Regions from separate parts of the Homo sapiens genome. Here all the other regions are linked to region 1. Evidence: fine-mapped expression QTL. A gene starts in region 1. Each other region holds a variant in brackets. All regions are shown on one strand. Distances are between the middles of the regions.

Region 1 (5,148 bases):
TTCCTAACAATGTTATCTTCGGGGAACATTATCTTGGGTCACCAGTGCCCTCCTCACTGGTCCAATGGACACTTTCAAACACCAATTCCTTGACTTCACTGGGATGTCCAGTTCATCAACATCTCTTTTTTACCTGACATCTTCTTTACCTCCTTCAACAAATGCTCTTTCCAACAAGATAGTCTCTTCTAGTTTCCTTCACCTTTGGGGCTCTCCACACTCCAATATCTAGGATTATAGGATTATTATCCCGTATTAATCGCTCCCCAAATGTGTTCCTGGCTGTCTTGAGTTCCAGACCCACATGTGCAACTGCCTCTTGTCTTCCCCTGGATGGCTCTCACAGGATACAGGCCGTGTCCAGACATGAGCTCAGGGGCCCTGCACCCCACCCTGCTGTGCCCCACCCTGCTGGGTTCCCTCCCGCTGGGCTCCTCTCCAGTGTTTTGTCTAGCAGTGAAACCCTGTCCAGTTCTCTAGCCCTTGTCTCCGACTCATGTCTGCTGAATCTACCTAACTTCTCCTGAACCTATCACTTCTCCCCATCACCTCTCATGTGCTCAGCTGCAGTCTCTCCCACAGTTTCTATCTCCCTCCAATCTACTTTTCACCTCGCTGCCCGAGACACTTTTGTTTTTAAATACACACCTGAAATCAACAACTCCACTCCCAGGTTACACACCCAACAGAAATGTGTACCTAAGATCACCGAAGACAGGAGCAAGAAGATTCACAGTAGCATTATTTCTGCAGCCAAATCTGCAAACAACCCAAAGGGCCATGGACAGTGGAAACGATGAGTAACTTGGGGTGTATCCATACAATGGAACACCACACAACAATGAAAGTAGATGAACTACAGTTACATACAAATACAATGATAAACTTTGCTAATCCCACATTTCGGGAGGCCAAGGCCGGTGATTGTTAGAGGACAGGAATTGGAGACCATCCTGGGCAACAAAGGGACCCCATCTCTGTGAAAAATTAAAAAAATCAGGGGTGCGTGGCTGCACATGCCTGTAGCCCCGCTACCCTGGAGGCTGAGGTAGGAGAATCACTTGAGCCTGGGAGGCGGAGGCTGCAGTAAACCGAGATCCCGCCACCGAACTCCAGCCTGGGCGACAAAGCTGAGCTCTGCCTTGAAAGAGGCAAAGAGAAGGAAGGGAGAAAAAGGAAGAAAGATGGGGAGCCACAGAAAGCGGCTTTGCTGTAGGGCTGGTTGTAGGGCTGCATTCACTAAGGCTCCATGGGTCTAAGGCCAACTCCGAGGATGGAGGTCAGCACAGCTGGCGTCCCCTGGGGCTGGAGGGCTGTGAGCCACCGGCACCCAGCTGGCTGCTTTCACGGGGAAGTTCGCTTGGTAAAAGCTCACTGTGTTTTTGCTTTTGTTCTTGCATAAACATCAGTTCAACACAAAATTTTCACAGAAAGAAAAACGCCTCCCTGACAATGCGACTGTCCACTTGACACCAGGGCCCCGCGCTGCCCATGGAATAGGGCCAGAGTCCTCCACTGGCGTTAAGGTTGCCGCCTGCCCGCTTCTCCCCCAGGTCCTCCAGGCGGACCCGCAGCCTGCAAGCCAGAGCCCCCGACTGACAGGACTCGTGGCCCGACCCCTGTGTCCCCCTCATCTTGCATCCCGCTCCCCCCGGCGGCCCCTCCCCTCCACGGCCCCTTCCTGCCTGCGGACCCTCCCCCACGCCCTCCTCCCCTGGCGTCTCCCCTCCCCCCATCTCCTCGGTATCCCCCTTCCCCCCCAAGCCTTGACCCCCCACATCCCCCACCTTGCCCCCCTCCTCTGGCGTCCCCTTCCTCCCTGCAGCCCCCCACCACCTCCGGCGTCCCCTCTTTCCCCACCCTCCCGCAGCCCCTCACTCCCCCGCTCCCTCCCCACCGCTTCTCCAGTGTCCCCCTCTCCCCACGGGCCCCTCATCACGCCCGCGGCCCCCACTCCCCGGTGGCCCCTCCTCCGAATACCCCTACCTCCGCGGCCTCTCACCCCCCCATGCCCCCCCCGCTCCATGCGCCGTTTCTCCCCCTCGGCCCCCCACGCGCCCCCGCGGCCCCTCCACCCCAGGTCCCCCTCCCCTCAGAGTTCCCCTGCTCCTCGCGGCCTCTCCCCTGGCATCCCCCTCCCCCTGCCCCCTCCCCCTTCTCCACGCGCCCTCTCTCCTCCGCAGCCCCCCACGTGCCCCCATGGCCCTCCCACCCAAGTCCCCCATCCCCCGGAGTTCCCTGACCCCCTTGCCGCTCCCCTCCCCTCTCCAGCCTGCGTTCGGGAAGCCCTGACCTTTGCCGAGGCAGGCGTCGCAGTACACGTGCCCGCAGTTGGTGAGGCTGAAGCACGACGTCCTGTGGGGCGGCTGGAAGCAGCGATTACAGAACACCCAGTTGGCCATGCCAGGCGGGCGACCGCAGCGGCGAGGCCGGGCCCACGCGAAGCCCACGCAAGGTTGGGACCAGCCTCCCCGCGCAGGGCCCGAAGGCGGGCAGCTCTGCGCCTGCGCAAAGTCGACGGCAGCCCTGCGCCCGCGCACTGGAGCTCGCGCCCTCCCGCCAACCTCGCGGGTTCTCCCGCAGCACCTGGGAGGGCGCGTGTGACTCGTCTCCCAGGTCGTTTGGGCTGGAGTAGGCGGAGGAACGCACCGCGAGCACCAACGTCCCGCCCCTGTCTTGGCGGTCCTCAGGTGTTTTGTGGAAGCCGGGCCTGGGTGGCGGGCGCGGGGAATGGCGGCTGCGCTGAGGAGGCGTCGCGGCGCGACAGCAGTGGGGGAGGGGGAGGGGGAGCGCCGAGGGCGGGGGATGCGGGCCAGGCCCACCTTGAGGGCCGGGAGCTGGGCCGGAGGCCAGGGCGGCCAGGGTAGTGCGCTGGGCGAGGCAGGGGAGGAGTAGGGGAGAGTGGGCGTGGGGGCCCTGGGGGCCCGGGGAGCGGGATAGGAGGGAGGGAGGGATAAGTGGGTGTGGGAGTTGGGGTGGGAGCGGGAGTGGGGATGTGGGAGTTGGGGTGGGTGTGGGGGCGTGAGGCGGTGGGGGTGGGGTGTGATGAGGCGGTGGGGGTGGGGGGGGCAGTTGGGGGTGGGGGCCAGGCCGCGCTGCACGCTTTGGGACTAGTGTCCAGGTGGCCGCTGGCGCAGAGACCTCAGCACGGGAGGCCTGAGCCTGCTTCCCTCTGAAACGGAAGGCGTAGCTCGGGAAGGACCTCTGCTGCTTCCAGGTTCCAGCATGGGGAAGTGACTTTTTATAAAATTGTCCTCTGCGTGGTTTTGAGAGTTTCCACCCGCTGGGACGCTGCAAAGCTCGGATCGAGAGGCTCAGGCAAGTGCTTGTGCCGGGAGAGCGCAGGGTGAGCGCTCCCGGTAGCTACGGGCCAAGTGACCCCTGCGCCCCGAAAGATGTGAGTAAAATACAGCTGTTTCCAGGGCCTCGTATGAAAACCTTCTTAGTAATTTTATATTGATTACATGTTAACATGATATTTTTGATATATTAGGTTAAATATATATCAGTAGCGTTGATTTTACCCTTTCAAAAAATCCTTTTCAATGTGGAGACTAGAAAACTTAGAATTACGTATGGGCTGGGTGCGGTAGCTCACGCCTGTAATCCCAGCTACTCCGGAGGCTGAGGCAGGAGAATCGCTTGAACGAGGCGGAGGTTGCAGTGAGCCGAAATCACACCACTGCACTCCAGCCTGGGCAACAGAGTGAGACTTCGTCTCAACAACAACAACAGCAAATTAGAATTATGTATGTAGCCCACTTTTATTTCTGTTAGACAGTGCTGATCTCTACCAAGTTTAAAATAGCAAGACCAGCAACGTGGCAAAACCCCGTCTCTACAAAAAATACAAAAATTAGCTGGGTGTGGTGGTGGGCCCCTGGGGTCCCAGCTACTCGGGAGGCTGAGGTGGGAGGATTGCTTGGGCCCTGGAGATCGAGCCTGTGGTGAGCCTGACGGCACCTGTGCAGCAGAGCGAGACTCAGTCTCAAAAATAAGTTTAAGAATAGGATGAGGTGCCTAATCTATCAAATTCAGAAGCTGCATTATAAAAGCATTCTCTCAATGTTATAATGATATAACGTTAATCTCAATCTCTGGTATCTTTGAAATCATAAAAATAATACACATATATGCAGGTATTTTGATTTATTAACTCAAACATTATGCAGATTATTTGTCCTTATTGATAATATTTTAAACAATCTTCTTAGCTATAAAGAAGTCTTTCAGGTACTTCATTTGGAAAATTCCGACTGAGATAAAGATTAATATTTGTGCAAAAGCCCACCATAAAACATTGCTATTTGTATCTTCACTGGTCGTTCGAAAATTTTCTTCACGGTCCTATGCGGAAAAGAAGTAGGTTTAGTGTCATAAAGTACTTAACTCACGATTTTGAGGGGAGGGTTGTTGTGGGCATTCAAGGTATTTAATATTACCCAATTAATATCTTACACCAACGTATCCGTGCAGTCTGCTTTTCTAAACCAGAATCTGTTGCTTAGCCAAGTATAAGAGAGTAAAAATCAACCTTATAAAAGATGGTTTTGTATTTTGGTGTAAAATATCAGGAATTTGACCTATTCGTATATTTTATTTGCTACCATCAGGCAAAGCGAATATTACCCAATAGTGGTAGATTTCATCATTTGAGTCCAGCCTTTATGCCAGGCATTAGGCCAAGCACTTGCATGCCTTATTTGCTTGTCACACCTGTCCTTATCTTCCTGTTAAGGAAACTGAAGCTTAGAGATGACACAGATTACTGACAGGTAGTTGAGATTTAAGCCCATATCTGACCAATATCCACTTAGTGTAGTGACTCAAAAAGCACCTAATGTCATAAGAATAAAATTGTGATTTGGAAAGTGAGCATACGTGAGCCTCTACAAATACATGGGATGCATTTGGAAGCATTTATTCATTCTGCAAGCTCACACCCTGTGCTACTGGGGACTTCGTTAGGCACAGGGCATAAAAAGATGAATGAACTGAAATTCTGTTTCCTAGAGGAGTTCATAGTCCAGCCGACAGAGTGAAGAAAAATTGCTCTCTCTAGTCCCTGTGAATCCACACCGTTCTACCTCAGAGAGAAAGTGAGGAACAGGCAGTTCACTCTTTCCTTGGTCCAGGGGCTTTGTGTTG
Region 2 (5,148 bases), 300 kb after region 1:
GATATTACACTATTAGTTATGCTATTTTTAATAATCTATAATATTTGGGCTATAATTAATTAATTATACGGGTCAGATAATATCTAGGGCTGGAATGAGGTCTGAAGGACCCATTACGGTGGTAATGAGAAAGGGGAAATCTAATCTGGGGACAGGTGCTGCGAAGGCCTGGGATACTGCTGCCCGCCTCGCTGGCCTCGTCCCCACCAGCAGGCCCAGCATGGCCCAGCTTCCTCGGACGCAGCCAGTGGGCACGTCAGGCAGGGTTGCTTGAGGTGGGGCCCTCAGCGGGCCAGGAGGACTGAGAGGCTGGGGTGGAGGGTGGGACTGAGAGGCTGGGGCGGAGGGCGGAACTGAGAGACTGGGGTGGAGGGCCCGCCCGCCTGTGTTGCTGGCCTGCAGCTGCAGACTTGGCCGGGGGGCGGGGGGGCAGGTGCCCACGTTCTTGGCTCTCTTTTGGGGCCTGGAGGGCCCCTGTCCCCCTCCGGCTTTCCTGTCTTTCTCTGAAGTGAGGGCCTGGCTGGACCATTCCCTGCATGTGTGGAGTCCAGTCCTCACCTCGAGCTCCTCCACCACCACCCCACACTCAGAGACTGAAACCCATGCCGGTAGCCAGAGTCCATGGGGCCGGCCGGGACTGCCCTGCCCACCCTTCCTCTCCTTTTCCTGGCTCCCACGACCCCACCGCACGGCCTCCCTGCTGCCTGAGGGGTGAGCGGGCCAGCTGCCTTCGCACTGGCTGTCCCCTTGTTCTGAAGTCACCTCCTCTTCATCTTCTCTTTGACATGAATTTCTCTGCTCTGACATTAGCTCTTCAGAGAGGCTGGATCCTGGCTGCCCTGGTCAACCCCCTATGCCCGCCAAGACTGCCCCCCAGTGCAGGATGTATTGACTTGCTGGTGGAATGGAGGACCCACACTGGCTCCGCAGTCCCGGGTCGTGTGCCTTTCAGGAGTGCTGCTGTCCCATGCCCAAAATCAGGACACACATGGTGGTCTGGGGTGAAATCTGAAGACATCACACATCACAGACACTGCAGCTTGGCGGCTGCTTTCCCCCTCGTCCTCAGTGCTGCAGGCAGCCTGGTGCCTGCAAGTGGCTCTGGTGAATGCAGCCCTTCCCTTGCTGGGCTTCCTAGTGGGGGCCTGGAGGTGCGGCCCAGTGAGTCTGCCCTGCCCAGTAGCTGTGGGCCTCAGACGCACCTGTCTTCTGGCAGCCTGAGGTTCTTTGGAACCTCCTGGCGGGGATCCAGGGGGCTTCAGCGGGGCTGGCTCGCTGTTTGAAACTCCACACCACCCCTTCCCTGTCAGGCCAGGCCGATCCCCTGCCCAGATGGCCCAGGTCCTCCTCACTGTCTCTGGGCATGGTGGCCGGGCAGTGGGCACCCTGTCTGTAGGGAATTTAAAACAATAGTGAGGCCAGGCACTGTGGCTCATGACTGTAATCCCAGCACTTTAGGAGACTGAGGTGGGCAGATCACCTGAGGTCGGGAGTTCGAAACCAGCCTGACCAACATGGAGAAACCCCAACTCTACTAAAATTACAAAATTATCGAGGCATGGTGGTGGTTGCCTGTAATCTCAGCTACTTGGGAGGCTGAGACAGGATAATCACTTGAACCCGGGAGGCGGAGGTTGCGGTGAGCCAAGATCACACCACTGCACTCCACTCCAGCCTGGGCAAGAGCAAAACTCCATATAAAAAAAAAAAAAAAAAAGTGAAAGCAACAAACGGGCTGCCTGCTTCCTCCCACCACAAGAGACGTGCTTCTGAACAATGTCCGTGACCAACACTCCTGCCCAGGAATGTGTTTTGACGGTCAAAGCTTGCAGTGGCGGCTGTGGGTACTGCCGGGTGTGTGCATGTGGACAGGTAGCATATGAGCATGTAAATGTCCTTTGCTAAGTGTGTGCCCTACACGGAAGCGAGTCTATAGAATCCCGGTTCACAGTTGCTTGTGGCCTGCCGATGCGGCCACACGCGTCCATTTTGAGAGGAGGCCTGTGGTTTGGGAGCGCGGTTCAATTTCAAGCTCAGCTCCTGTCCCCACCCCACCCCAGGTCCCACTCGTTCCTTTGTGTAAACAGTAGGTTCAAAATAAACAGATGGCACAGTGGCCGCAGAGACCAAGCTGCAGAACTTGGTGCCTCCCACCCTGTTCTTCCAGGCGCAGGCTGCCCGCACGCCTCGCGGCACTTACTCCCTCGGACATGTTTCTTCAAGCGCCTTTTTCTGCTAAAAATACATCCATGCCGAGAGCAGTTTGGCGTCCTGGACTGGACCCTGGATGACAGAAGGGACATTCGTGGGGGAAAAAGTCGGTGAAATCCCAGAGGGTGTGTAGTTTGCTTCATAGTGTGTGGCGATGCCGCTCTCCTAGTTTTGACAAATGTCCGGGGGTGACTTAAGAGGTGAATGTGGGCTGCCGTGGGGTGTAGGTGGGTGCTCTCTCATGCTCCTCGCAGCTTTGCTGTTAATCTAAAATGATTCCAAAAAGGAAATATTTATGACATTCATGTCATTAAAAAGCATCAACCCATTCCCTTTTTCCGATTTTGCATTATAATACGTAGTTAATTTTTTTACTAATAATATATAAATTCAATAAAACTTTCACCATTGGCATGCACTTTCTGTTGCTTGTTTCATTACATGGCAATTTCTGCCATAATTTTTTTTTCTTTTTAGAGGTAGGCTCACTCTGTCACCCAGGCTGGAGTGCAGGAGAGAGATCTTGGCTCACTGCAGCCTCGACCTTCCAGGCTCAAGGCATCCTCCTGCCTCAGCTTCCCAAAGTGCTGGGCCAATGATAACTTTTGTTTGCTTTTTGAGACAGGGTCTCACTCTGTCGCCCAGGCTGGAGTGCGGTGGCGCAGTCACGGCTCACTGCAGCCTGGAACTCACAGGCTCAAATGATCCTCCCACTTCAGCCTCCTCACTAACTGGAACTACAGAAGCCTCCACCTCACCCAGCAAATTACTGAACTTAATTTTTTTGATGTGCCCTGGGGTCAATACTCGAGATAGGTCCTGGTGGCTGCCTCACCAAAGGATGCCCCATTACGTCAGTCCTCCCAGCCCCTATCCAAGTGCCCATTTGTCATCACACTGA[G/A]GAGGCTGTGGGGTGAGGCTCCATGTCTCCTCCTCCACCTCCCCAACACGGCAGATGTGGGAGGCAGCTTAGGGCTGGGGATGAATAAGGGAATGTGAACACAGACACCACCCAGGACCACACCCCGTGATCCCAGCGAGGGGGGCTGGTCGTGACGGTATCTCTTTCCAGCTGTGACGAGGATGCCACCTGGGCTTCCTGCTGACCTGGCCGAACCCTGCCAGGTGTCTGTGAGGACATCCTGCCCTCACAGTGATTGTAGACAACCGTTGCCTTTTCTAGTGATCAAAGTAACACGTGCTCGTGAAAAAGCACAGAGGAGAAGCAGCATCTCCCATAACCCACAGCACAGCGACGGCCCAGCTCACACCTTGCCGTTTTCTGCTTTCCTCTCATCTCGTTTTCTGCTTCCTAAAAACATAAATGTTGGCCGGGTGCTGTGGCTTACGCCTGTAATCCCAGCACTTTGGGAGGCCGAGGCGGGCAGATCACTTGAGATCAGGAGTTCGAGACTAGCCTGACCAATATGGTGAAACCCCATCTCTACTAAAAAAAAAAAAATACAAAATTAGCCGGGTGTGGTGGCGAGTACCTGTAGTCCCAGGTACTCGGGAGGCTGAGGCAGGAGAATTGCTTGAACCCAGAAGGTGGAGGTTGCAGTGAGCCGAGATCTTGCCACTGCACTCCAGCCTGGGTGACAGAGCGAGACTCTGTCTCAAAAAAAAAAAAAAAAACCATAAATGTGGGCGCTGCACCTATAGCCTTGGGCACTTGGATGCTGGCCCCCCCTTGTATCCTAGGCATTTCTCGTTGTCATAGCAGACTTCGTAACACAGGTTCTTACCGGTCCCATAGAACCCTGTCACACGGAGGGCGTGAGCCGTCCATCCGTGTGCCTAGGCAGTCTGGCTTTCTGTGCCTGGAACCACTGCTGTGTAGATTCTTGTTTAGACTTGAGTTCACCTCTAGGAGACACCAGAAGTGATGGGTTGGGTTAAAGGGAGGGAATTCCTAAAGGCTGGGTAACGTCTCCGGCGTCACTGGCATGGGCACCATCTCACAGGGTGGCATCCCCGCCTCCTTCTGTGGCGGTTGCCATTTCTGTGGACACTGGTGAGAAGGAACATTTTCCCTCATGAATATTAGCCACGTAGCTTCTTTTTTTTTGTGAACTTTGTCTTCTTTGTGAGCTCTGTCTTTTTTCCATTTGGTCAGCTATTGAGGTTGTTTTGTGGGTGGCAATAGGTTAAAAAGTAACCTTGGGTTGGGCATGGTGGCTCATGCCTGTAATTTGGGAGGCCGAGGCAGGCGGAGCACCTGAGGTTGGGAGTTCGAGGCCAGCCTGGCCAACCTGGCGAAACCCCGTCTCTACTAAAAATACAAAATTAGCCGGGCGTGGTGGCAGGTGCCTGTAATCCCAGCTACTCGGGAGTCTGAGGCAGGAGAATTGCTTGAGCCTGGGAGGCAGAGGTTGCAGTGAGCTGAGATCGCGCCACTGCACTCCAGCCTGGGCGACAGAGGGAGACTCCATCTCAAAAAAAAAAAAAAAAGTACCCTCTACTATAACATATTTCAAACACACACAAAAATACAGCGCAGAGTAAGATCAGCTTCCTGGGACCTGTCACTCAGATGCAACATCTGTCAACATTTTGGTGTCAATATGGTTTTGTGTATCCAAAGCCACACCTTTATTCTGGAATCTTAAAATATACCTTCAGACATTAAGTTGCTTCACCTGTAAATATTTCAGGCAAGAAAAAGAAATAAAATGTAAACATATTGAAACAGAAAAAATAAAACTAGCCCTGCATACAGACGACATGATTATCTACGTAGAAAATCCCAAGGAAAAAGCACCCAGAATTCATAAGTCAGCAAGGTCAGAGAAAAAGCCTGAAAAAGGTCAATCTAATTTCTATATACCCACGATCAGTGATTAAATCCTAAAAATTCAAAAACATTTTATAATAGCTCCAGGTTAAGGAAGTTCCTTCCTATTCTTAATTTTCTGAGAAATTTGTAAAATCATTAAC
Region 3 (5,148 bases), 35 kb after region 1:
AGCTTAGAACACTGTGGATATCATGGAAGTGGCACCGACGAGGAGAGCTTAGAATGCCGTGGATATCATGGAAATGGCACTGACAGGGAGAGCTTAGAACGCCGTGCATATCATGGAAATGGCACCGATGGGGAGAGTTTAGAACACCGTGGATATCATGGAAATGGTACCGATGGGGAGAGTTTAGAACGCCGTGGATATCATGGAAATGGCACTGACGGAGAGTTTAAAACGCCGTGGATATCATGGAAATGGCACCGATGGGGAGAGCTTAGAACGCTGTGGATATCATGGAAGTGACACTGACAGAGCTTAGAACACCGTGGATATCATGGAAGTGGCACCGACGGGGAGAGCTTAGAATGCCGTGGATATCATGGAAATGGCACTGACAGGGAGAGCTTAGAACGCCGTGCATATCATGGAAATGGCACCGATGGGGAGAGTTTAGAACACCATGGATATCATGGAAATGGTACCGATGGGGAGAGTTTAGAACGCCATGGATATCATGGAAATGGCACCGACGGGGAGAGCTTAGGACACTGTGGATATCATGGAAATGGCACCGACAGCGAGAGTTTAGAATGCTGTGGATATCATGGAAATGGCACCGATGGGGAGAGCTTAGGACGCCGTGGATATCATGGAAATGGCACCGACGGGGAGAGCTTAGAATGCCATGGATATCATGGAAATGGCACCGATGGGGAGAGTTTAGAACGCCGTGGATATTATGGAAATGGCACCGATGGGGAGAGTTTAGAACGCCGTGGATATCATGGAAATGTCACCGACGGGGAGAGCTTAGAACGCCATGGATATCATGGAAATGGCACCGACGGGGAGAGTTTAGAACGCCGTGGATATCATGGAAATGGCACCGACAGGGAGAGTTTAGAACGCCGTGGATATCATGGAAATGGCACCCACAGCGAGAGTTTAGAACACCATGGATATCATGGAAATGGCACTGACAGGGAGAGTTTAGAACGCCATGGATATCATGGAAATGGCACCGACAGGGAGAGCTTAGAACGTCGTGGATATCATGGAAATGGCACCAACAGGGAGAGTTTAGAACACCGTGGATATCATGGAAATGGCACCCACAGCGAGAGTTTAGAACACCGTGGATATCATGGAAATGGCACCCACAGCGAGAGTTTAGAACACCATGGATATCATGGAAATGGCACCGACAGGGAGAGCTTAGAACGTCGTGGATATCATGGAAATGGCACCAACAGGGAGAGTTTAGAACACCGTGGATATCATGGAAATGGCACCCACAGCGAGAGTTTAGAACACCGTGGATATCATGGAAATGGCACTGACAGCGAGAGTTTAGAACACCGTGGATATCATGGAAATGGCACTGACAGCGAGAGTTTAGAACACCGTGGATATCATGGAAATGGCACCAACAGGGAGAGTTTAGAACACTGTGGATATCATGGAAATGGCACCCACAGCGAGAGTTTAGAACACCGTGGATATCATGGAAATGGCACTGACAGCGAGAGTTTAGAACACCGTGGATATCATGGAAATGGCACTGACAGCGAGAGTTTAGAACGCTGTGGATATCATGGAAATGGCACCCACAGCGAGAGTTTAGAACACCGTGGATATCATGGAAATGGCACCGACGGGGAGAGTTTAGAACGCCGTGGATATCATGGAAATGGCACCAATGGGGAGAGTTTAGAACACCATGGATATCGTGGAAATGGCACTGATGGGGAGAGTTTAGAACACCGTGGATATCATGGAAATGGCACCCACAGCGAGAGTTTAGAACACCATGGATATCATGGAAATGGCACTGACAGGGAGAGTTTAGAACACCGTGGATATCATGGAAATGGATTTCAGAAAGGCTTTTGTATGTTAGTTTTCAGCCAAGTCAAGAAGTGAGATGCATCCACATCTGGCTGCATGCTTGTAATTAGAATCTGACTTTCAAATTCGTCTCAATGTGTGTGGAAGTCTTAGAACCACAGTTCATCCTGCAGTTTGTTCAGTTCTGATTAAAAGCACTCACTCCACATGTGCCAGGCACTGCAATAGGCTTTGGGGATACAAAGGTTAATAGAAGAGTTCATGCCCTCAAAGAGCTCATTCAGTCCTAATACACCTTCAAACCGGAAGTGTCCCTGCTGACACAGAGCAAAATGACCACTTTTATGAGCGACATGAAACTGGGAAGGGGACCCAGATATCCTCCTGTCCCCATCCCCGTCCCCCAGCACAGGGCCTGTGTCCCAGCAGCCTGCTGGTAGACCA[A/T]AGCAGCCAAGGTAAAAGGCCAATCCCGGCTCTCCCCCCAGCCAGCTTCGCACCACTCAATCTGTGGGAAATTGAGGGCATCATATTTGGACCATGACTTACTTGTGGTTGTTTGTTTAATTGGTTTTGATGAGTTTGGTTTGCTTTTCTCTCCTTGTACGATTTGCCCATTTTCTGTCCTCGGTTTTTCCATGTCTGAGTAATAGTCTTCTTTTGTCTTATGCCCATCCCCCGTTTTTGCCAGAGCCTTCCACCCTCCTGCCTCAGTCTCCACAGCCTGCTCCCTCGGCCTCCTCTGGGCTGGCTGTCCTGGGTCAGCGGTGAGTTCTTCTTTCTTGGGTTACATGCTTTGCGGCTTCTTTGCTGAATGCAGTCAGGGGCAGGGGCAGGGGCAGGCCCAGGGAGCTCGCCTGTCTTGCCCTACAGAGTCTTCAGCTCCCAGCTCTTAGCTTGACCCAAACGAGATACTTTCACGCATGTGTGTTACAAACTGGAGCAAAACCGCGCACTTGGCAACTAAGGAGAGTTAGCCTGCAAAGAGAAATCTGGGATGGGTGGAATCTGTGACTTCAGTTATGACGGACTTTCAGGTGAAAAAATGTGTATTTATTTTGAGTGGACCCAGATGGCAGAACAAGGATGATTGGATACAGTTGTGGAGATGTAGTTCCTGCACTATGGACAGCTGTGGGCTGTGCTCCCCGGCAAGGAAAAGGCGAGCAGCCACCCCAGAGCGCCAGTGCAGAGGCTCCCTTGGCACTAGGGTGTGGGGCAGGTGTGGGCTCCTCCACCACAGGGCAGTGGGTGAGGAGCACCAGACCCACAGGATGGCTTCCAGGACCAGTCTGTAGCTCTTGGACTTTAAGGGCATACTGTTCTCTTTTAAAGAAAAGTTAAAACTGTGGCCTGATGCGCCTTTTTTTTTTTTTTTTTTTTTTGAGATGGAGTCTCATTCTGTCACCCAGGCTGGAGTGCAGTGACGCGATCTCGGCTCACTACAACCTCTGCCTCCTGGGTTCAAGTGATTCTTCTGCTTCAGCCTCCCAAGTAGCCAGGACTGCAGGTGTCCACCACTACTCCTGGCTAATTTTTTTTCTTCTTTGTATTTTTAGTAGAGACGGGGTTTTACCATGTTGGCCAGGCTGGTCTTGAACCCCTGACCTCAAGTGATCACATGCCTCGGCCTCCCAAAGTGCTGGGATTACAGGTGTGAACCACCATGCCTGGCCCTGATGCACTTTCAAAGTTTTCCATAACAGTGAGTTTTAAGTAGCCAAGCTCTAAATCTAAATAATTGCCCAAGGGTGATGGTTAAGGAGACTGCTGAGTGGGAAGAACAGAGAGTAGGGAGGCTTGGGAAGACCAGGTGAGGAGGAGCAGTCAGTCAGAGAAGAGCCTTGGCAGGAACTGAGGAGGGAGGCGTGGACAGCAGCATCCGTGGGAAGGAGGACTCCAGAGGCTCCTGACTTGGGTGAGGGAGCCAGCCACAGTGGGCCCTGGTCTTCCAGCCAGATGGGACCGCTTGCCAGAGGATCCTTGGGGTGTCACATTTCTAGCTGGAAACTTCTGTGGCTGGTGGCACCCTTGCCCGAGTTTTGCTTGGGCCCACTGGGCTTGTTCTGCCCACTCAGCCTGGCATGCTGCACTCAACTCACGCTACTGGCCTGGATCCCACACCTGCCAAGAGCGAGTCAGGCACAGAGCAGTGAGGGGTGTGTGAGTGAGCATGGGGTCCAGCCACTGTGCAGTCAGGCACACCCGCAGCTGCTGCAAGGTGGGCAGCTCCAGTGCTGGCATGGGCGCCCACTCTCTGCAAGGCTGCAGCTGGACCAGGTGCACTGCAAGCAGCTTCCACAGCTGGCACTGGGGAATGCAGTATGCCAGGAACCACAGGGCCCCAAAGAGGGAGTCCAACTCAGAAGGGGCAGGGCTCCTGCTTGTTCCTGGCCTGGGGGGCTCCCAAGTCTAGGCTCCCTGAAGGGCTGCAGCTCTTCTCTCCTTCTCTTCCCCCATAGCATGGCAAGCAAGGGGCATGTCTCAGCCCTGTTTGTGTTATACCAGCTCTTTTAGCCTTGCCATTTGACGGGTCCCAAGTTCTTGTCCTGTGACCAGGAAGAATGAGGTCTGCAGACAAGTGGAGGGTGAGCAAGAGGAAGACGAGCTTTATTGAGCGATACAACGGCTCAGAGGAGACCCGCAGGGGCAGCTCCTTTCCACAGCCAGGGTGTCACAACGCGTGTTCAGCTCCTAGCACAGAGGAGACCGTAGAGTGGGAAGCTCCTCTTGGCAGGCAGGCCATCCTGTCATCTCTGAGGCTCTCAGCAGAGAGGAGGCCCTGGAGTGGGTTGCTCCTGTCTGCAGACGGGCCATCCCTTTGTGCCTGCGGCTCTCAGCAGAGAGGAGGCCCTGGAGTGGGCTGTTGCTCTCTGCAGGCAGGTCCTCTTGTTGTCTCCCCAGCTCTCAGCAGAGAGGAGGCCATGGAATGGGTAGCTCCTCTCTGCATCTGGTTGCCCTGATGTCTGCTCAGCTCTGGTTGAGCCTAGGGCTTTTATGGGCCTTAGAGGGGAGGAAGTGCACTGTGATTGGTACATTGGCAGTCATGGGTAAAGGCACCAGAAGTTCCCACTCTGGTCTGCAGGACTGGCAGCCCAGTCCCCAGCCTTCAGGACCTCCCTGGCCTGAAGGTGGGGGCCTCACCAGGGACCTGCCCTCTTCCACCCAGGAACTTGTCTGCGTCCTGCTGCTATTCATGGTGTCCAGGCTATAGGTGCCAAGGGGTGCCTGCAGGCCAGTGCCAAGCTACCCTCAGCCCACCCTTGGCTTCCCTCCTATTCTCGGTGCTTAAAGTCTGGAGGGTGC
Region 4 (5,148 bases), 49 kb before region 1:
GTTACAAGGAAAGAAGTGTGCTGACCAGTATCTCTTATGAATACAGACACACAATTCCTCAACAAAATACCAGCAAACAAAATCCAGCAGCGTATAAGAAAGATCATACACCACGACCAACCGGGATTCATCTCAGGAATGCACAGTTCCTTCAACATACAGAAATCAACACCATATTAATATATTCTATCAATGGAAGTAATTACATCTATGAACACATCATGGTAACAGAACAAAACCCAATAATCATCTCAAAAGAGAAAGAGAAAGCACTTGAAAAATTTAACCCTTCTTCATGACAAAAAAGGACTAGAAGGGCACTTCTCAACCCTATAAAGGGCGCCTCCAGGAAACCCTCAGTGAACACCATCCTTCATGGTGAAAGGCTGAAAGTTTCCTCCTAAGATCAGGAACAGAACAAAGACAAGGATGTCTGTTCTTGCCGCTTGTATTCAACACTGTATTGAAAGTTCCAGAGAGGGCGGTTAGGCGAGAAAAACAAATGAAAGTCCTGCAGTGGGACGGGAAGTGAAAAGATAAAAATAAAAGTAAAAGATAAATAAAAGGCATCGTGGTTGGAAAGGAAAAAGTAAAACAACCTCCACTTGCCGATGACATGATTTGCCATATACAGAAAACCCTAGAGAATCCACAAAAAAAATCCCCAGAGCTCATAAACTCAGTAGATTGCAGGATACAAGATCCATCTATAAAAATCAGTTGTATTTCTACATACTAGCAATGAAAACCTGAAAATAAAAGTTACAAAACAATTCTATTTATAGTAGCACCAAAATAACAAAATACTTAGGAATAAATTTTACCAATGAAGTGCAAGATTTCTTCACTGAAAACTGCAAAATACCGTTGAAAGAAATCAAAGACCTAAATAAAGGTAAAGCTATGTCCAACATTCATGGATTGGAAGATGCAGTGTTAGTATTAGATGGCAATACCCCCTACATTGATGTACAAGGTGAATTAAAACTCTACCGAGATTTCAACCTGCTTTGTCAGCAGAAATGGGAAAGTTGATCCTAAAATTCATATGGAAATGCAAGGAACTCAAAATATGCAAAACAATCTCAAAAAAGAACAAAGTTGGAAAACTCACACTTCATAATTTCAAAAGTTACTATAAAGCTTTAGTAAGTGAAAGACAAAAAGAAAAATACTTAAAGCAGCAAGAGAAGAGCAACTCATCACCTACAGGACAATACGATTAACAGCTGACTTCTCATCAGAAATAATGGAAATGGCTGGGTACGGTGGCTCATGCCTGTAATCCCAGCACTTTGGGAGGCCGAGGTGGGCAGATCACCTGAGGTCAGGAGTTTGAGACCAGCCTGGCCAACATGGTGAAACCCCATCTCTACAAAACTAGCCAGGTGTGGTGGTGCGCACCTGTAATCCCAGCTCGTCAGGAGGCTGAGGCAGGAGAATCACTTGAACCCAGAGGTGGAGGTTGCAGTGAGATCACACCATTGCACTCCAGCTTGGGCAACAGAGTGAGACTCAGTCTCAAAAAAAAAAAAAAAAAGAAAAAAGAAAAATTAGCCAGGTGTGGTGGTGCATGCCTACAGTCCCAGATACTCAGGAGGCTGAGGTGGGAGGATTGATTGAGCCCAGGAGGTCCAGGCTGCAGTGAGCCATGGTCAAGACACTGCACTCCAGCCTGGGTGGCAGAGACCCAGTCTCAAAAAAAAAAAAATGAAAAAAACCAATATTAATAATAATGGAAGCCAGAAGACAGAGGAATGACATATATACCAAGTGCTAAAAAGTCAACCAAGAAAATGTATCTTCAGTGAAATTATCCTTCAAAATGAAGACAAAGACATTCAAATATGGAAAAAAAAAATGAAGAGAACTGACTTCTAGCCAATCTTCCCTGCAAGAAAAAACTGGAAATGGTTAATATGTTGTGAATGATGGAATAAAAGATTTTTTTCCTCTTAAGGTCTTTAAGAAACATAAGTTTAATTCAGGAAATAATGACAACACCATATTGTTAGATTTATAACACATAGATCCCATATATATGTACATAAATACATATGACAAAGCAGGTGGGAGGAAGCGGAGCTATATGGAGCAATGTGGTTACGTTCCACTGGAATTCAGTCGGTGTTCACCTCAGTGAGTGTTCACTGTGGTGAGTTCAAGATGCATGT[T/C]GTAATCTCTAGAGGAATCACTGAAATAATAAAGCACACAGATAAAGTATCAACAGGAGAACTAAAACGTGTATTAGTCTGCTTGGGCTTCTGTAATAAAATACCACAGACTGGGTGGCTTACACAACAGAAGTTTATTTCTCGCAGTTCTGGAGACTGGCAAGTCCATCAAGATGCTGGCTGATGGGGGTCCTGGCTTGCAGACAGCAGCCTTCTCACTCTGTCTTCATACGGCCTCTTTTGTGTGTGTGCAGAGTTAGTAAGCAAGCTCCCTGGTGTCTCTTTTGTTTTTTGAAAATTTATGATGATACAGTTTCCTACCTTAACCATTTTCAGTGTACAGTTCACTGGTATTAAATACATTCCTGATGCTGTGCAACCATCACACCACCCATCTCTATAACTGTTTTCATTTTGTGAAACTGAAATTTTGTGAAACTCCCATTAAACGAGAGCTTCCCACCCCTCCATCCCACAGCCGCTGGCAGCCACCATCCTACTTTCCGTCTCTACGATCTTGACTACTTCACACACATGGACTCACACAGCATTTGTGTTTCTGCGACTGGCTTATGCACTTAGCATAGCGTCCTCAATGTTCATCCACGCGGTAGCGTGTGCCAGAGTTTCCTTCCATTTTAAGGCTGAATCATAGCCCACTGTACGGAGACACACATTGTGCCTATCCATTCATCTGATGGATACTTAGATGGCTCCCATGTTTTAGACACTGTGAATAATACTGCTACGATCTTGGGTATACAAGCATCTCTTAGAGACCCTGCTTTCAATCCTTTTGAGTACTGAATTGAAATGCAGCATCATCTGGGAATTGTGTTTTTAAGTTTTGGAGGAAAGGCCACACTGTTTTCCACAGCAGCCACACCATTTCACATTCTCACCAACAGTGCACATGCTTCCAATTCCTCCGCGTCCTTAACAACACTTGTTATTTTGGGTTTTTAAAAATGATTACAATAAACATTTATTTAAAGGAAAACATCTGCAGACCAAATAATTCTGAAGTTTGTTTCAGGTTTAACCATCTTCATAAAAATACTTTGAGGAAAGCTGCATCCACAGACTTCAACTATGTGATTACTTCTTTGTCCATTCTCCTCTCTCGTTTTCTTTTTTCTTGAGACAGGGTCTCACTCTGTCAACCAGTCTGGGGTGCAGTGGTATGATCACTGCTCACTGCAGCCTTGACCTCCCAGGTTCAGGCAATTCTCCCACCTCAGCATCCTGAGAAGCTGGGACCACAGGTTTACGCCACCAGCCTGGATAATTTTTTGTAGAGAGGGGGTTTTGCCCAGGCTGGTCTGGAACTCCTAGGCTCAGCTCCACCTCGGCCTCTCAGCTTCCCAAGTAGCTGGGACTACAGGTGTGTGCCACCACACCTGGCTAGTTTTGGCATTTTTAGTAGAAACAGGTTTCATCATGTTGGCCAGGCTGGTCTTGAAGTCCTGACCTCAAGTGATCTGTCCACTTCAGCCTCCCAAAGTGCTGGGATTACAGACATCCGTGCCCGGCCTGTTTTTGTTTTTAAGAGACAGGATCTTACTCTGTCGTCCAGGCTGGAGTGCAGTGATGCAATCATAGTTCACTGCAGCCTTGACCTCCTGAGCTCAAGCAATCCTGCCTCTGTGTTCCAAGTAGCTAGGACTACAGGTGCGATTTTTTAAATATATAGTAGCCATCCTAATGGCTGTTTATCTCATCCTAATGAGATACTATCTTGCTGTTTTTTTTTTTTCTCTGTAGATGAGGTCTTGCTATGTTGCCCAGGCTGGACTCCATCTCCTTGGCTCGAGCAATCCTCCCACCTCAGCCTCCTGAACAGCTGGGACTACATGCATGAGCCACTATACCCAGCTCTTGCTATAGTTTTGATTTGCATTTCTCTAACGATGAACGATGAGTATCTTTTCATGTGCTTATTGATCATTTGTGTACTTTGCCTATTCAAGTCATTTGCTGCCCTCCGCTTTTCTTTTTTCTGAGACAGGGTCTCACACTGTCACCCAGGCTGGAGTGCAGTGGCACAATCTCGACTTACTGCAACCTTTGCCCCCCAGGCTCAAGCAATTCGCCCACTTCAGCTTCCTGAGCAGCCGGGACTACAGGTGTGTGCCCCCATGCCTAACTACTTTTTAAGTTTTTTTGTAGAGATGGGGGTTTCACCATGTTGCCCAGGCTGGTCTCGAACTCCTGAGCTCAAGCGATCCTTTTGCCTTGGTCTCCCAAAGTGATGGGATGACAAGTGTGCACCACTGCGCCCAGGCTTTGCCCATTTTTGAATCAGGTTGTTCGTTGTTAAGTTTTAGTTCTTTATGTATTCTGGATTGTAATCCCTTATTAGATACATATGATTTGCAAATATTTTCTCTGATTCTGCAAGTTGCCTTTTTACTCTATTGATAGTATCTTTTGATGTGGAAAAATTTAAAATTTTCATGAGGTCAATTTGTTTAATTTTTTTTTTTGTTGCCTGTGCTTTGGTATCATATCCAGGAAATCACTGCCACATCCAACATTGTGAACCTTTTGCTCTATGTTTTCTTAAAAGAGTTTTATATTTTTTAGTTTTAGGTCCTTGATCCATTTTGAATTGACTTTTCTACATAGTGTTAGGAAGGAGTCCAACTTCATTATTCTGCAGGTGGATATCCAGTTTTCCCAACACCATTTCTCAAAAAAACTGTCCTTTCCCCCACTGAATAGTGTCTTTCTCCATTGAATAGTGTGTTTTGTTTTGAGGACATGAATCTTATTGGCTTAGGGCTAATTTAACTTTACCTCCTAAAGGTTCTAACTCAAAATATAGTCACATTGGAGGTTAGGGCTTCAACATATGAATTTTGGGGGGACTCAAATCAGTCTATAGCAAAATGGTATGATAAAAATATTTATTGCAAACAAAGGCAGTTAAGGAGATACCGATAAACTAAAAATCCTGTCATATATAAAACAA

Evidence for each region.
Region 2: its variant is fine-mapped to the expression of RNF212 in tibial nerve (GTEx, PIP above 0.99). The same link has a PIP of 0.9 or more in subcutaneous fat and tibial artery.
Region 3: its variant is fine-mapped to the expression of RNF212 in aorta (GTEx, PIP above 0.99). The same link has a PIP of 0.9 or more in coronary artery and spleen.
Region 4: its variant is fine-mapped to the expression of RNF212 in whole blood (TOPMed, PIP above 0.99).

The regions. Positions count from the first base shown.
Region 1 is chr4:1,111,063-1,116,210 of GRCh38, forward strand. It overlaps RNF212 (ring finger protein 212), which reads right to left and starts at 2,502. Exons shown (of 10, transcript NM_001131034.4): 1 at 2,294-2,502. The coding sequence starts at 2,402. It overlaps LOC124900647 (nascent polypeptide-associated complex subunit alpha, muscle-specific form-like), which reads left to right and starts at 2,577. Exons shown (of 3, transcript XM_047416477.1): 1 at 2,577-2,690. It overlaps LOC105374344 (a long non-coding RNA gene), which reads left to right and starts at 2,577. Exons shown (of 3, transcript NR_134676.1): 1 at 2,577-2,690. It also overlaps the pseudogene TMED11P.
Region 2 is chr4:1,415,849-1,420,996 of GRCh38, forward strand. No RefSeq gene overlaps it. Among named protein-coding and RNA genes, the nearest start is that of NKX1-1, 12 kb to the left of the region's middle. The variant G/A (reference allele first, on the strand shown) is at 3,113.
Region 3 is chr4:1,146,241-1,151,388 of GRCh38, forward strand. The region is part of intron 1 of LOC124900647 (nascent polypeptide-associated complex subunit alpha, muscle-specific form-like); the gene reads left to right. It overlaps LOC124900837 (hornerin-like), which reads left to right. Exons shown (of 2, transcript XM_047416541.1): 2 at 310-5,148. The coding sequence ends at 1,920. Among named protein-coding and RNA genes, the nearest start is that of SPON2, 24 kb to the right of the region's middle. RefSeq lists enhancers at 3,518-4,018, 4,019-4,519. The variant A/T (reference allele first, on the strand shown) is at 2,290.
Region 4 is chr4:1,062,172-1,067,319 of GRCh38, forward strand. It overlaps a transcript of RNF212 not described here. Among named protein-coding and RNA genes, the nearest start is that of RNF212, 49 kb to the right of the region's middle. The variant T/C (reference allele first, on the strand shown) is at 2,175.